2 separate regions of the Homo sapiens genome follow, and region 1 is linked to region 2. Evidence: fine-mapped expression QTL. A gene starts in region 2. The other region holds a variant in brackets. All regions are shown on one strand. Distances are between the middles of the regions. Region 1 has its middle 36 kb from the start of NRXN3. Region 2 holds the start of SAMD15 (sterile alpha motif domain containing 15).

Region 1 (5,376 bases), 760 kb after region 2:
GTTGGTTAGAGCACAGGGCTTGTTGGGGGTGGAGTGGAAAGGCAGACTGGGCCCAACACACAGGGTTTTAATTCTGAGCTAAGGAGATGTGACTTCATACATTAGGCCATAGAAAGCCACTGGAGGTTTCTGAGCAGGGGAGTGATAAAGACAGTGGGGAGATGGCTCGAATGGTGGTATCCTGGGTGGATCCAGAGGGAAAATCCAGAGGTGGGAAGGGCAGGAGGAGGCTGTTGCAGCAGCCCAGGCAGAAAGTGATCGAGTCTTGAACCAGAGCAGTGACAGTGGGAGGGGAGGGGAGAAACAGATGCGAGAGACATTGGGAAGGAAGAAATGGCAGACTCCAGAGGCTGATTGGATGTGGGGGCGAGGGATTTTCTCAGCCTTTCAAGGGAAAAATGCCACCTCCATCCTCCTGCTAACTTCAGCTCAATGGCAGGAGTGTATCAGTGACAAAGAGCTGGCGTGATCAGTGCCTGGAAGCATCTGTAGAAAGTCATGAAGTCACATGCCTGTAGGCAGCTGAATGTGAATGGGAAAAAAATTTGTGTCACTAAATGGTCCTCTTGCAAAATGTGAAAGGAAATGAGCATTTATTTTAAAAAAATCTGCTGGGAGCACCATGCCCCATCTCTTCCAGTGGCTGAATTGCTCCGGAGGAGTTGCTCCCACCCACCTGGCTGTGGTATGGGCTGCATGTCCTTGAAAAAAGGATTAAAATAATGGCCAGAAGCAGCCCCAGGAAGGTTTCCTTCAAGCTTTTTTGCTCATTAGATCAGCCTGAACTTCAGCCATGTCTGAGGCGGGACATGCTGTTCTGCTAAAATATACAGACGGCTTTCAGAGAGATTTAAAAATGGAATTTATTAAAGCAACAGTTGGACAATTCCATAACAGTGGCCCCACTAACTGTAAATTTCTGCAGTCACTTGATCATTCTGCACCTCCATCTCCTCACTTGTCAAGATAAGGGCCTGGACAAGATAGAAACTCCATTGTTTCTCCCTGGGCTAACATTCTATGCTTCCGTGTGCCTGATGGAACCTATTGAGGGTGGCTTCAATCAGAATGAGGTTGAAAGGAGGGAGGTCTTACAGATTTTTTATTTAGCTGCCAAGTATTTGGAGTCAAAGCTTTTGGGGGAACAGCTTTTTCCTCACTGAGCTCCAGTATTAAATACTATCCTCTGCCTGCCCCTCATTACTTTTCCATTAAACAGAGCTACTTGCTGATAGATCACCTGGTTTTTAGGCTGAGGATATTTTATATTCATCTTCAACTGGGTGGTATATAGGGTTAATATAATTTTGACATAATTTATATTCATTGGAGTCATTTGCTGTTCATTAGACAAGCAATAGAGCATCATGGTTAAGAAGCTAAGGCAGGGGAGATGCAGAGATATTGGTTAAAGGGTACAAAGTTTCAGTTATAAAAAACAAATTCTGGAGATTCAATGTACAATATGGTGATGATAGTTAACAAAACTTTGCTGTATTCTTGAAATTTGCAAGTGTTTTCATCGTTCATATATAAAATACAATGGGAGGTGATAGATGTTAATTAGCTTGAGCATGGTGATTATTTCACATTATATATCAAACATCAAGTTGTGTACCTTAAATATATGTAATTTTTATTTGTCAGTTACACCTCAATAAAGCTAAAAAGCAATAAAACAAAACAGAAGCCAAGGAAGTAGGTAAGCTATGAAGTGTGAAGCTGGGGTTTGAACTCAGGAAGTCTAACCAGGAGGACCCTGTTCTACATGCTATTTTTTTTTTTTTTTTTTTTTTTGAGACAGCGTCTCGCTCTGTCGCTGAGGCTGGAGTGCTGTGGCGCGATCTCCGCTCACTGCAACATCTGTGCCTCCCGGGTTCACACCATTCTCCTGCCTCAGCCTCCCGAGTAGCTGGGACTACAGGCAACCGCCACCATGCCCGGCTAGTTTTTTGTATTTTTAGTAGAGATGGGGTTTCCACCGTGTTAGCCAGGATGGTCTCAATCTCCTGACCTTGTGATCCACCTGCCTCAGCCTCCCAAAGTGCTGGGATTACAGGTGTGAGCCACTGCGCCCAGCCTCTACATGCTATTTGATGCAGGTACCTTTTTATTAGTGTGCTCAGGCTGCCCTAACAAAATACCATAGATTGGGTGGCTTAAACAACATAAGTCATTTTCTTACAGTTCTGGAGGCTAGAAGTCCAAGACCAAGGTGTCATCAAGTTTGGTTTCTCCTGAGGCCTCGCTTGTTGGCTTGCAGGCCATCTTCTCTCTGTGTCCTTTCCTGGCCTTTCCTCTGTATGAACATAGAGGGAGAGAGAGCTGTTTTCTCTTCCTCTTCTTTCTTCTTCTTCTTCGTCTTCGTCGTCTTCTCCTTTTTTTTTTTTTTGTAACAGAGTTTTTGCTCTGTCACCCAGGCTGGAGTGGAATGGCACGATCTTGGCTCTCTGCATCCTCTGCTTCCTGGGTTCAAGTGATTCTCCTGCCTCAGCCTCCTGAGTAGCTGGGATTACAGGCGCCTGCACCACACCGGGCTGATTTTGTATTTTTAGTAGAGATGGG[GT/G]TTCACCATGGTGGCCAGGCTGGTTTTGAACTCTTGACCTAGGTGATCCGCTTTGGCCTCCCAAAGATTGCAGGCGTGAGCCACCATGCCGTCCTCTCTTGCTCTTTTTATAAGGACACCAATCCCGTTGTATTAGGACCCTACTCATATGATCTCGTTTAATCTTAACCACCTCCTTAAAGGTCCTGTCTTTAAATATAGTAACATTGGGAGCAGAGCTTCAAAATATGGATTTTGGGGAATCACAGCTCAGTCCCTAACAACCTTTCTCATGGATTCATTGAGAAGATGAAATGAGATTGCATGTGAAAAGGATGTTATGAGGACAGTATCTGGCATACAGTTACTGCTCAGAGCTGCTGCTCTTGTTATTATCATTACTACCTTTTGATGTGGACACAGGGAAGGGACTAAAACTCTTCCAAGGTGCTAAGAACCCCCAAGGAGGGTGGGTTTCCTCTTCTTTCCATCCTTACCACCTAAGCCACCAATATCTCTTGCCCGGAGTCCTGTAACAGACTCCTGTTCTTCCTGGCTCCTGACGTCTTCTGTGTCCACCTTAGCCACACAAGCATGAGTTTTAAACATGTAAGTCAGGTGATGTCACTCATTTACCTAAAATCCTCTGGCTCTCCATTAAACTTTGATGACTGGGCTAACTCCCAGCTATGGCTTCCGACCCCTCCTCGAAGCAGCCCCTGCCCTCCTGTCCCACTTCTTTTCCAATCAGGGTTCCCCTTGCTCACTATGCTCAAGTGACACTGGACTTCTTTTAATTTCTTGAAAACACCAAGCAAATTCTAACCTTTAGGGCCTTTGCCTTCATGTGTTTTTAAGTTCTAAATACTCTTTCTTCAAATATCTGCTGGGTTTGCTATCTTATCTCATCCAAGTCTGAGCTCAAAATATACTTACCTGCCACTCTCTCTAAAGCTTCTCCCTCTTCCATGGTTGCTGTCTACCTTATTGCCCTGTTTTATTTTCTTTATGGCACTTAGTACCGTCTAAAAGACCCATCTTATTTGTTTATTTGCTTATTATCTTTCTTTCTTAATAGACTATACACTCTCAGAATGAAAGGATCATTTCTTTTTGGTTTATTGCTGTAACTTCAGTGCCTGGCATGGAGTATAAGCTCAAAGCACATTATTTGAATGCAAGAATAAATGAATGAGCTTGAATCTGGAGATTCAAAGTAGATGGGGACTTCTTGGGATAAACATCCACAAATTGAGGACAAAGATCATGATGGCAAAGTAGGAGAAGGGGTATTTTTCCCCCCTCATATAAGCCTTATTCAGAATGCCTATTTTAGGACCAGGTACAAGCATTTAAATTTTGGTCCTCATGGTGGAATGTGATATTAATAAAATTTTTTTAAGTTGTGGAATTTGGATTACTTTGGTCTTTGTTTAATTTATCCCGGGTCCCCAAAGGGTATGGCTGCTGAAAAAAGTATCCAGGCATGAGTCACAGAACCTAAGTCTTATCTTATGAGTCTTGGCTGTGGCTGTCTTGATTCTTCTTTTGATCCGGTGGCTTTCCCCTGCATGCTTAGTCATGCCCATGCCCAGGGGTCATGCTTTCCAGACTAGAGAGTATACTATGCACTCTTTCTAGGGTGATATTCTAAGTATTTAATAACCGGTATAACAATGACGCTGACCATTCAGCTATAAACAACCAGTACAGCTGAACTAATGTGTATTGGTTGAAAGTCACCTCTGACTACCCCATCAATCCCCTCCATAGTAAATATTTTCATAGAGAGTTTTGTCTGTTGCCAAAGAGGAAGTGGCTGTTTCTACGTGCCCATCAACACTCCCCTCCCCACCTACACCAGCCCAGCCTTTTCCTGTGAAATGCTTCACTTTCTCCATTGTAGCCAGAGTCCCTTTTTCTTTCTTGGGATCTAGTATCAGCAGCCTGCCAAGTACACTCATTCATTCAATGAGTATTATTGAACACCTTTTATGTTTCAGATGCTGTGTTGTTTGCTGGAGATAGAGCAATGAACAGGCACAAGTCGCCTCCCTTGTGGAGCTTACATTAAGGACATTCCAGTATTTCTGCATAGTTCTTTATAAAGTACAATCAGTCCTCCATATCTGTGGGTTCCGCATCTGTGTATTCAATCAAAAATATCCAGTTGAAAAAAGTTACACAAAGTTCCAAAAAGCAAAACTTAAACTTGCTGTGTGCCTAGTACTATGTTGAATCAAACAAATGAAATGATGTGTAGGTATCATATTAGGTATTATAAGTACTCTAGAGATGATTTAAAGTGTACAAGAGGATGTGTGTAGGTTATATCCAAATACTAAGTAATTATATAAGGGAGCACCTGAGGATTCTGGTGTCCATGGGGGTGGTCCTGGAACCAATCCTTCACTGTTACTGAGGGATGATTGTGTAATATTGAGTTACTAAGTTACTGAAGTGTTGGGGATGGAAGTGAAGAAGGAGAAACCATACTAGAGATGCAAGAGGAGGGGTTTACTGCACAGTTCTCATGAACTTCAACCTTTTGCCCCAAGAGGTGGCACCCTTCCCCTTGTACTTCTCAGTTTGCCCGGGTCTTACCCACAAATGGATTACCCACCTGAAACCACACCAAATCATCTGTCTGCATGTATTGCTACTGCCTGGAGGCTCCTACCCCATAGTGCTGGGCACTGTGGGTCATACTGGACATTTGCAGGCCTTTTTAAACAATGATCTAAAATTTTCATTTATCAAGCCTTTTTACCTTCTCTTATTTTCTCTTGACAGAACATGGGGTTTTGATACAACTCTCAGTGGAGCTGCTC
Region 2 (5,376 bases):
ATGTTTTGAATTGTTAATTGTTTCTCCCTGAAATGGATCTCTCATCTCATCAAACTGAAAACACCTTGAGGACAGAGACCATAACCTGTCTGCGAGTACCAATACTTGATTCATGGCCAATAAAAACAAACAATTATAGACTTCATCATAACAAGATGACAATTTCATCCAGACAGTAAAAACTTGCGCTAACTTGAACAGGTAAGTTAACCTTTCTCAGCTGTAGTTTGTTCCTCTGTAAAATGGGAAGAAAATGATTGTTGACATGACTAAATCAGAAAATATAAATTTTTTTCCACCTCTGGCACAGAATAAGCATTCAATATCTGTAGGTTATCATTACTATTATTTTATTAGCAACAAATCCTACCTCAAGAGGAAGAGCTTGCTCTGGGCTACTATAATAAACCCCTACATGACATTAAAAAAAAAAATTATCACCCTGCATTCTGAGGGTAAGAGGAAGGAAAGTAAGCATCTCTACCAATGTCCTGGGAGGAAGTGAATGCAGGAATGAATTAGATGTCAGGGGGAAAAAAAAACACACTCATCTATCTAAAACGCGTGGGTACGTTTGCCATAAACACATGAGAACCTAAAGGGGAAGTAAAAACATGCTTAATTTGTAAATACTGGCGCATGCAAGGGACAAGTGTTATAAGACTTACCTTTCTGTGTTTACTTGCTTAGTCTTTTAGACATTATGCTTAGAATTTCTACTGCTATGTTAAATATATGCCAACGATTTTTAATTTAATACAAAGCAGAGTTCGTAAGAAAAAAAGGCAAAATTTGTCAGGTGTTTTAAAGTAAAAGAATATAAAATCATGGGAAAGAGCTGGGTGAGTTGTGTGTGTGTTTGAATAAGGCAGCATTATGAGAGGGAAGATACTTGGGATCAGAGTAGAAGACAGAAAAAGGCACCATGTTGGAAGCCATACATCCAAGAACACCTCTGGCGGCACAGGAAGTTCAACTGAACAAAAAGAGACCTTACTGTCACAATGGTTGAGACGAGTATAGTGTGTACCATGGACTATACCCCAAATGCCTTAGACAAAGCAGCTCAAGTAATCCTCACAATAATCCTATGAGGCAGATATTTTTAGTAATCACATTTTACAGATGAGGAAACTGACGTTTCAGACTCCAATCCAGGCACCCTGGCTCCACAGTAGTGCCTCAACCATTATACTTTATGGTGTCTATTTTAATTTCAGACCTAGAAAATTAATTTATATTTGCTACTTAAATAAGACAAGTTCTCTCCCCTCTACCCTTTCGTATTTCAAAAGAGCATCCTTTCAGTTGCATCGTGTGTGGTGTTCAGGAGGCTGAAAGAAGAAAGTGTGATGGATGGACTCTTTTGTCTTTGGACACTGAAATAATACACACGGAGGAACTCGCGTTAGTAGAAATGGAGACGTCGTCCTGGACAAGAAGAGGATGAGGGTCTTGAGAATGAGGGAGGTAGGCCAAATTTTTAATTCCTGCTCTTGCTTTGGCTACTGTGTTCAAGCAAAAGACCCCAGACACTACCTATTTCAACTCTGCTTTTCATTTTTCCCACTCTAAGCGATGGAGAGGATGGCAGCAAGGCCAGGGGGCCTATGTGCAGGAAGGCTAGGGCGCAGTGGGCTTCTGGCAGAGGAAGGCAAGGCTGCCAACCCGGGTGGGGGCCGAGAGGCGCGTGGTAAGGCTGGGGCAGGGGACTGAGATGGGGATAGGGTGGGGAGCCAGAAGCAGGGGGCGGCGAGGCCAGTAGGGTTCGGGTCGGCAGTCTAGATGTGATTAGCAGACGGAGGTGGGACCCGAACCCCGGCTGAAGCTGAAACTGAAGCTGAAGAGGCGCCAGGGGCAGAGCCACCCTGTCACTACCATTTGGGCAGATCTCAGAAAGGAAGCGGGGCAGGAATCAAGGCATTTCGAAACAGGAGTGAGTAGAAAATAACCTCGAGCCCAGGGCCCGGGTGGTGGCAGCGGCGGGGAAGGGGCCCCGCGCGCGAAGGGGCTGCCGAGGTGGGTCCGCTCCGCGGGGAAGCCCAGGACAGAGCGCGGCGGAGGCTCGCGCCGTGGTGCGGGGCCCTGAGGCCGGGCGGCACCCACCCGCCAGCGCCCCGGCCTTGCGTACCTGAGGCGGCCGCCTGGCTCCCCTCCACTCCCTGGCAGTCCCCGACGCCGCCAGCCGACCCTGGGCGGGCTGTGGGGCTCCAGGAGCCCGGCCCCTCAGCCGCCTGCAGGTCAGACATCTGCAGCCCGCGCACGGAGCTCTCCGCTGCCAGCCGCGAGTGGCTCCGGAAACAGCCGAAGGCCGAGCGAGCGCCGAGCACAGCCGAGCGCAGCCTGCAGGCCGGAAGAAGCGGCGCGGCGGCCGCTTGAAAAGCTAGCTGACCCAGGGGCGGCCACAGGAGCTCTGGCCCGCTGAGGCTGGCGATGAGGCCGCAGGGAGGGTTACTGCGTGCTTGTGACAGACGATTTTTAAAGTCAGGGCTTGAAAGAACAAACAAAACCTGGGGAAGAGTCAGGAAGACACTGCCGGAAATCGTGGTATCCATAGAGACGCTATCGGAAGTTGGGGTTGCTAGGAAGCCGCGGCGCGTCTGCTAAGCTGCAAATGGCTGAAGTCCCGGAGGATTATGATTCCGGCCCAGATGAAGATGGAGAGCTGGAGCCTGAGAGGCCTGAACTGCCTGGACTTCATAAATTGTATGAAAATGCCGAACCAGACACCATGGCAAAGGCAGACTCGAAGCTACCAGCAGAGATTTACCAAGAGCCACAGCCAGAGACCGAGGAAGAGGACTTCAAAGAGGGGGAGCCAGACAGTGCTAAGAACGTGCAGCTGAAACCTGGCGGGACGTCCCAGGAAGGAATTGCCAAGGAGTCCAAGAGAGACGTACCAAGCGAAACTGAACCAGGGATACACCAAGAGGTAAAGTCGGAAACATCCAGAGAGATGGGAGAGTTTTTCAAAGATTTGGAGGCCCCTATGGATGAAACGCATAAAGAGTCAGACCTAGAGCCACCAGAGGAGGCTAAACCAAATGTTACAGAGGATGTGTTCCTAGAGTCAGCTATGGAAACAGATCCAGATCCAGTGCCACCAACGGAAACCATGTCTGAGGTTTCGGGGGCCACAGTCAGAGAGAGAAATTTAGAATTACTAGAGGAGGAGACTGAACCGGGGGTTCCAGAGGAATCACTTAGAGTGCAACATGAAGAGACAGGTCTAGAGCCTCCAGAGCAGACCAAACAAGATTTTCCAAGTGAGAAACTAGGAGAATCACTTGAAGAGACAGATCTTCAGCCACCAAAGATGACCAAACCAGAGACTCCAGAGGAGACACAAAGAGAGTCAACTGAGAAGAAAAGGACAGAGCCACCCGAGCAGGCTAGACTGGAATTTCTGGAGAAGGAACCAAGAAAGTCTAGTGAGGAGGCAGGTCTAGAGCCTCCAGAAGAGACTCAACCAGAGGTTCCAGAGGAGATGCAAAGAAAGGCAACTGAGGAGAAAGGGACAGAACTACCTGAGCGGACTAAACCAGACTTTCCAGACCACAAGCCAAGAAAGTCTACTGATGAGAACGTTCCTGAGCCACTAGAAGAGATCAAATTAGAGTTTCCTGAGGAAGAATCAAGAAAAACAAATGAGGAAACAATTCTAGAACAATCAGAAATGATGAAACCAGAAAGTCCAGAAGAGATAAGAAAGTCAAATGAGAAAAAAAATCCACAGCCACCAGAGGAGACTGGTCCAGTGCTACCACAGGAGATCAACCCACAAGTTGAAGAGAAAACACAAACAAAGCCAACTGAGAAAATTCTAGAGTTACCAGATGAAACCAAACCAAGGGAGACACATGTAGAATTTTCCAAGGAAGACAGGCCAGAACCAATAAAGTCTAAGTATTCTGTAGGAAACGATGAGCTAGAGCACCGTGAGCCTAAAAGAGGAAAGTTGTCACTAAGTGACAAATTTAGAAAAGAATATTACGCATTAGGATCTCTCAGAGAAAGTGAAGAATCAATTGGTACACATTATGAGTTTTTGCAACCACTCCAAAAATTGCTTAATGTCAGTGAAGAATGCTCATACTCAGATCCCTCAGAGTCTCAGACAGAATTAAGTGAGTTCGTTCATGAAAAGGAAGTTGTAGATTTGTCCCAAGAGTTGAAGGAACGGGTCTCTGAAGATGACGAAACCCAGCCAGAAAAAGGGACTGAGTTACAATTTGAGCATCTTAATTGGGATCCAGAGGAAGTTGCAGAGTGGATTAGCCAGCTAGGCTTCCCTCAATACAAGGTATACAAAAATAAGATGTTTTGAAATCACATGCTGTCATCCGTCTACTTCTTATTCCTTCTAACTTGGCCTGAGCTCTTACCTCTTTACCGGAAGGAGTATCAAAAAGTCCTAGACTGTGGTAGAGGTAACTTGGATTTTAATTTTGGCCTTGCCACTGATGTATATTTGTATTTTGGGAGAGGAAGGGAGGGTCACATCGGTTTGTTTTTCCTCTTCCAGTGATTACACTTCTCTGCAATCCTTGAATAAAAGACCAAGAAGAGTATATAGACCTCCTTTCTTTTTTTTTTTTTGAGACACAATCTCGCTCTTGCCAAGGTTGGAGTGCAGTGGCACGATCTCGGCTCACTGCAAGCTCCACCTTCCCCAGGTTCACGCCATTCTCCTGCCTCAACCTCCTGAGTAGCTGGGACTGGGACTACAGGCGCCCGCCACCATGCGCGGCTAATTTTTTGTATTTTTAGTAGAGACGGGGTTTCACTGTGTTAGCCAGGATGGTCTCCATCTCCTGACCTCGTGATCCGCCAGCCTCAGCCTCCCAAAGTGCTGGGATTACAGGCGTGAGCCACCGTGCCCGGCCTTAGACCTCCTTTCATAGAAAACTGTATTTTTAAGTAGACTTTGTTCAAGGTAGGCTTTTTGGTACTTTGTCAAGTTATTTTAGTGGCAGCTCCCTTGCTTTGAACTTGTGCTATTACTTTTTAAAGTGTCTGCCCCAAATATGTCACCTGTATCATGAGCACTTAAGTGTATTAATTCAAGTTAGCCAGTTAACCAAAACTAGTTTTAGTAAAAAGTCAGTGTAAACCTCTTGTTTCACTGATGCCAACTAGGTTTAAGGCTACCACAAAACAATACAAGATCTGAAACCTTTTGTACCTACTATACTTACAAATGTAATTGAGACATGAAGAAGCACTGGTTGTACCATGCCCAAAAAAACAGTTAAAGAGCAGTGTAAAATTTAATAAAGAGCTTACATGGAAAAATTGTGCCGTTATTGGGATAGAAAGTAAATTTAAGCTACTCAGGAGGCTGGGGCAGGAGGACTGCTTGAGTCCAGGAGTTCG

What was found. PIP is the estimated chance that this variant, and not a neighbour inherited with it, causes the effect.
Region 1: its variant is the best candidate, but not a certain one, in a credible set for the expression of SAMD15 in testis (GTEx, PIP 0.81).

The regions. Positions count from the first base shown.
Region 1 is chr14:78,131,452-78,136,827 of GRCh38, forward strand. No RefSeq gene overlaps it. Among named protein-coding and RNA genes, the nearest start is that of NRXN3, 36 kb to the right of the region's middle. The variant GT/G (reference allele first, on the strand shown) is at 2,566.
Region 2 is chr14:77,374,805-77,380,180 of GRCh38, forward strand. SAMD15 (sterile alpha motif domain containing 15) reads left to right here and starts at 2,575. Exons shown (of 3, transcript NM_001010860.4): 1 at 2,575-4,303. The coding sequence starts at 2,615. TMED8 (transmembrane p24 trafficking protein family member 8) reads right to left here and starts at 2,290. Exons shown (of 6, transcript NM_213601.3): 1 at 2,132-2,290. The coding sequence starts at 2,249. RefSeq lists a silencer at 1,868-2,297 and an enhancer at 2,348-2,557.